Regions from separate parts of the Homo sapiens genome. Here region 2 is linked to region 1. Evidence: fine-mapped expression QTL. A gene starts in region 1. The other region holds a variant in brackets. All regions are shown on one strand. Distances are from middle to middle. Region 1 holds the start of FADS3 (fatty acid desaturase 3). Region 2 holds the start of RAB3IL1 (RAB3A interacting protein like 1).

Region 1 (2,899 bases):
TCATGTCCTCGGGTCTTGAAGACCTTCCTGATACCCAGTGTGGCCAACCTAGAAATTTGGAGGGTCAAGGACAGGGCATCGTGGCCCCAACCCCTATTATGCAGGTGGGTAACTAAGGAAAAGGGGCTGGTCGGGCTGCTCCACCACTGGACTCCAGCCAGACAGTACCCTGGGGCCAGGCTACATCCCTGCCTGTCTAGACAGGGGCTGGGATTGGGAAGTTGGGGTCCCCAGGGGCCAGCCTGTTCCTGGGGTGACTGTGCTTCCAGGAGAGGCCCACCCAGCCTGGCTGGCAAAGCCCTCCCACGTGCAGCTGCTAGCCCGGAGAGGTGAGTCACTGTCCCTGAGCCCTTTACAGAAGCTCTTGGGAAAGCCACAGACCTCAGGCCGGCCCAGCCCCCAGCCTCTAATGGCATGTCCTTACCGGCCCCTGGGGACCCTGCCCTGCCCTACCCCTAGCACTCAGCAAGCACCCAGCATGGGGACCCAGAACTGAAACAGGGACCTGGGAGCAACAGGGCAGCCCCTCACCCAGGGCAGGCTCTGCAGCATGACACACCCACCTCTGAGGCCCCCTCCTCCCCCGCAGACCTGCTCCGTGGACAGCTGCGGGTCCTCCACGCAGGGAACTGCCCTCCCTACCCCACATCTGGCCCTGGCTAGTCCACCCCAACTCTGGGTCCCGGCGTGGAGGTCAAAGGTCAGCGAGGGGAGGGAGGATGCTAAGGCCCCACAGGTGGAGCGGGACATCACGCCCACGACCGAGCTCCAGGCTCCACCCGCCGGTGGGTGGCTTCCTTATGGCTTCCTTACCGTGGCGTCCTCAGCGCCGTGGTGGCCGATGAGGCGGCTGCCCCCTGGGTGCCGCTGTGCCCAGCGGCTGATGTCGTAGACGCGGCGCTCGATGACCAGCCACTTGTCGCCGGGCTGGTCGTGCGCGCGGATCTGCTCCCAGCAGAAGGTGGGCAGCGGCGCCCCCGGCTGCGCGGGTCCCTCCCGCGGTCCCGGCTCCCCGACGCCGCCCATGCTGCACGCACGAGTCCTGGGGATCCCAGGCGGTGGCCGAGGTCCGAGCAAGACCCCGAGGGAAGCGAAGAGCGCTCCCGGGCGCCGCCTCCGCCGCCGCCCGCTGCTCCGGCCCCGCCCTGCCGCCGCGGCCGCCGTACGAGCGAGCGTGCGCCTCCCGGCTCGCGGCGCAGGGAACTCCCCGCCTTATAACCGCGCGGACGGCGCCCGCCTCGCCTCGCCTGCCCCCCCGCCCCCGGCCAGGCCCCGGCCCCCAAGGCTGGCTGACCCCCCGCGTCCGCTCCAATCCAGGCGCGGGGCCTCGGTCTCCATTGGCCGCCAGGGAGGGCGGCGTCGAGGCGGCCCGCCCCTCCCGGGAGGACAGCGGCCGCCACCCAGCCCTGCCCCGGGGCACCGTCCCGCCCCCTTTTCCCGGGCTGCCGGCTTCCAGGTTCTTGACTCCACCCGGAGCGCGGGGCCTGGGGACACAACACGCACCTGTTGGGCGTCCCGCAGCGCCTCGCCACGCCCTCGGGAACCGGAGGCGGAGTCCCGGTCTGTGAGCAGCGGGGCCTGGGGGGCTTCCAGCCGCGCGTCCTGCAACGTCAAATCCAGTGCGCCCAGAGGGGGGACGCTGTCTCGGGGTGCCTGTGAACAGCCTTCAAACCATGGGCCCCAATCTCTGCGGGGCCCCCACCGCCGCTGCAGCTCTCTCGGAGCCCTCTGCTGGGGGCGGGTGGCCTCCCCTCCGCCCTCGGCGCTGCAGGGCTGGGGATGCCCAGGGGTGGCCAAGGGGGAGGTAGGGGAGCAGGAGGGCACTGGCGCGTGGAGGCGGGCGCTGCCATCCATGGGCTGAGGACACCTGTGCTTGTTACTGCTTCCCCGCCCCTCTTTTTTGTTTTGAGACAGGAGTCTCACTCTGTCGCCCAGGCTGCAGTGTAGTGGCATGATGTCGGCTCACTGCAGCCTCAACATCCTAAGCTCAGGAGATACCCCCACCTCAGTCTCGGGAGTCCCCAGCTGGGACTACAGGCGCGCCCCATCATACCCGGCTAATTTTTGGTGTTATTTTATTTTTGTAGAAATGGGTCTTGCCATGTTGCCCAGGCTGGTCTTGAACTCCTGGACTCAAGTGACCCTCCCGCCTCCCAAAATGCTGGGATTACAGGCATGAGCCACTGCACCCGGGCCCCATCCGCTTTTTTTAATTTAAATACATTCAAGTCCTTTTGAAAGTGTAGGTAGCTCCCCTAATTGCTTCGGATTTCTTTGTGATAAATATACCTGTTCCTAAAAGTTAAGCGTTCACAGCAGCAAGGAATTCAAATCAGGCTAAAGTTACTTCCAGAGCGCTGGTCGTCAATCTTCCATCAGAACCACCTGAAAGGCTTCCATCAGAACCACCCAGGAGGGTTATTCGGTGGGTCTGGTGTGGAGGCAGAGACTTACATGGCCAGTTCACAGGTGATGCTGACCGGCTGGTTGGGGAAATGCACTTAGAAAACCCTAAGTATATTTCTCTGATATGCTAATATTTTGTCTTGGTCTAAAGAGGACCAGTATCCCCAGAAGGGCAGAGGGGGCGAGTTCTCCCTGGTACCAGGAGCTCCTGCCTTTGCTTGTCAGGACATCCAGCAAGGCCCATGATGTCATCAGGCACCGGGGCTGCCTGGGCCCTCTCCACTGAGGCACCCACTGACCATATCCTGGAACCCCAACCTGGCACATGTGTGTGGGGGTGCAAGAGCATGGCTGGTGGCCCTGGCCCAAGGGGGCTGCAGGCACCCCTACCCCGTACCATGTTCACACAGCACAGGAATGGAGAAGGCAGATTCTTGAAGGAATGCATCCCCTGCACCAAAATCCACTGAAGGCATGGACCTGGCCCTGGCCC
Region 2 (2,899 bases), 27 kb after region 1:
GCGGCGCAGACCCGGCGGGGACCCCCGAAATCCTCCCGTCCCGGGAGGCGACCGCGGCCCAGACCCAGCGCGGGACCGCGAGCGCGCGCGGACCTACCCGCTCCACATCCCGGCGCCTCGGGGCGCCCAGGCGTCCGTTCCCAGCGCCGCCGCGTCCTCCCAGCGCCGCGTCCCCGCCCGCCGCCGACTCCGCCAGGGGCCGAGCCGCCCCACCGCCTGTCAGCCCTGCCCGCGGCCGGTCAGTAGGTCTCAGACGCCTGGGCTCGCGGCCCCCAGCCCAGCCCCGACCCTGCCCTGGGCGGGTCACGTGGCGGAGGGGGGAGCGGCCCGAGGACACGTGCCCGGCCCCGCCCCTCCGCCGGCCCGGCGCTGGGATCCGGCGCGCGCTCCCAAGGCCTGGCCCCACCCGGCCCGCCGCGCCGGGACAGGGAGACCACGGCGCTCGGAGGGAACCCGGCCCCCAACATCCCGCGGGCCGCGCCGCGCTCAGACTCCCCAGCTGACTCCTCCTCTCCAGTCGCCCTCCGCACCACCCACTTTGGGCCACCCCTGCTCAAGAACCTACAATGGCTCCCGAGCTCTCAGCTCTTCGATTCTCACACAGATTGTCACTTAAGGCCAGCAGACACCCTCCCCCCTCCTCACCCGGCCCTCCTTCCCTAGGCTGTCTGCTTAGTGCCTGTCCCTGTGCAACATCCTGCCTGCTGGGAAGGGGAGGGGACAAACCCGAAACAAGTTTTCTGAGTCCTACTCTCTGAGTTTTATCCCGAAGGAGTTTCCACTTCTGGTCCAACTCTCCTCACTCAGCCTCCTGCCACTTAACACGCTCTGCCCATCCCTGCCTTTACTCACCATCTGCCCTCTGGATAGTATTCCCCACCCCACCCCCACCGACACACACACATACACACACCTGTCTGGTCCCACATCCTCCGTGAAACCTTCCCTGAATCCCAGACGACTGGTCTACCTGTCCCTCAGTTCCTCTGTCCCACCCATTCTGAGTCCTGATCATTCGTCTCAACTTCAGCCTGGGACTGGACCAGTAAGAGCAGAACCCGTCTTCTCTCCCGCCAGGTACCATGGCTCCCACCTTCCCTGTCTAGGGGAGGACTGGGAGCGTGGTGGGAGGTACTTCCCCTTCTAGGTGCTACCAGAGGTCCCAGTGCTACCCCTCCAGGCCCACTGACTCAGGCCGCAGGCTCAAGTTAGTCAGATCTTCGTTTGAGGATACATTTTATTCATTCATTCTACTCATTCATACATTCAGCCACTCCATCTGAGCATAGACTATGGGGCATGCAAGGGGCTGGGGACCCAGCAGGAAACTGTACAGACATAGGTTCTGCCCTCCTGGGGCTCCACGTTGGTGGAGGATGGAGGATGGGGGACGTATTCTCTAAGACCTCCACGTCCAGGGCACAAATAGACAATGCTCTTTCCCCGCTGGGCACAGCGCACAGCAAGGTATGGAATCTGGAGAGTGGAGGCGAGGCTGGATTCTATGCCTTGCTTGCTCCCTTGGCCAGCACTTTGTGCAGTGAACAACCTAGGCAGTTCTCCATAGCATCCCTTCCAACTTTCTAGAATCATTCAGCCCAGGC[G/A]TCCCATAGCCATCACTCAGCAGGGCAGTTGTTTCCATGGCCACGGCTTCCAGAGGGCAGGGATTCTCTCTTTCTTGGAGCTATGTTCCCCTACCCCACCCCCAGCCCAGCTCAGGGTCTGGCCCACCCAAAGCAGATGTCCACATGTGTTTGCTGGCTTGAATCCCTCATCAGTTGGTCTTGAGCAACTGTTGTCTTCCTGGCCCTTATTTTGTTCACTATTTAGAGAAGGAGGAGAAAATGACACAAAAGGAACCCAGCACAGGGCCCTTGCCCTCCAAGTCTTCACAAGCCCCGGCAGGAGATAAGTCATGGCAACCCAGACCAGTGGGAGATAAAGGGTGGAGGAGGCGTCAGCTCAGGGCTATGTCCCTGGAGGAAGAGTCCTCAGCCTGGGAGGTCTGGTGGACCGGGGAGGCCCTTGAGCGAGGTCTTGAAGGACAAGTCTGTGGTCACCACTCTGGAAGCATCCACACTCAATTTCTAACCAAAAATAGCCTGTCATCCATGCTTCCTGCTACCATGGACTCCTAGGGCTCACTGCCTCCCCCAGTAGGGAGGACCCTCCTGCTCAGCTGAACTTGCTCCTCAGTTGAAAAGGATGGGCTCGGAGAAGTTAAGGAACCTGCCTGATATCACACCAGCCAGGGGCAGTGGGGCTGAGTCCTCTTACACCCGTTTTCCAAAAAGACCACCCAGAAACTAGAGGCTCACTGGCAGCTGCAGCTGTGTGCAGCCAGGCAGCAAGAGGTTCCTGAGCACATGCTAGGTGTCTGGCCAGTGGCAGGGAAGGGATAAATAAAAGTTGTGTCCTCTGCCTACAAGCCACTGCCCTCCTCAGCCTCCCTCCCTCTATCTCCCTCTGCCTGCTCCATCCCAAGCCTGGCAGCCTTGACCACAGACCCTTGGCTGAAGGCAGCTGAGGAGCAGGAGACAGTCAGCCTGGACAACCCAGGCCCTGATTCTGGACTTACAGGTGTGTCCTCAGCTCACTGTGTGACCCAGGATGAGTGTCTTGCCCTCTCTGAGCTTCAGTCTCCACCTCTGTACAGCCACCAAATTGGACAAGACAATCAGAGCCATTGCCTAGGACTCTCTGAGCCCAGCTTCTCACACTGGCTGCCCTGAAGCTTGCCAAGACTCCCCCTCCCCTCCATGCCCCAGGTCCTGAGCTCACCTGTCTGTGCCCCAGGGCTCTTCTCTCAAGTTCCCCTCAAGTACAGGGCACAGGCCTGATGGGGCGTAGCGGACAGTCCCTGCACTCATGGCCAGGAACACGGGACATGTCCCTCGGG

What was found. PIP is the estimated chance that this variant, and not a neighbour inherited with it, causes the effect.
Region 2: its variant is fine-mapped to the expression of FADS3 in whole blood (INTERVAL, PIP 0.94).

The regions. Positions count from the first base shown.
Region 1 is chr11:61,890,356-61,893,254 of GRCh38, forward strand. FADS3 (fatty acid desaturase 3) reads right to left here and starts at 1,190. Exons shown (of 12, transcript NM_021727.5): 1 at 814-1,190. The coding sequence starts at 1,026. RefSeq lists enhancers at 1-210, 211-899, 489-658 and silencers at 859-988, 1,089-1,898.
Region 2 is chr11:61,917,260-61,920,158 of GRCh38, forward strand. It overlaps RAB3IL1 (RAB3A interacting protein like 1), which reads right to left and starts at 307. Exons shown (of 10, transcript NM_013401.4): 1 at 98-307. The coding sequence starts at 108. The variant G/A (reference allele first, on the strand shown) is at 1,605.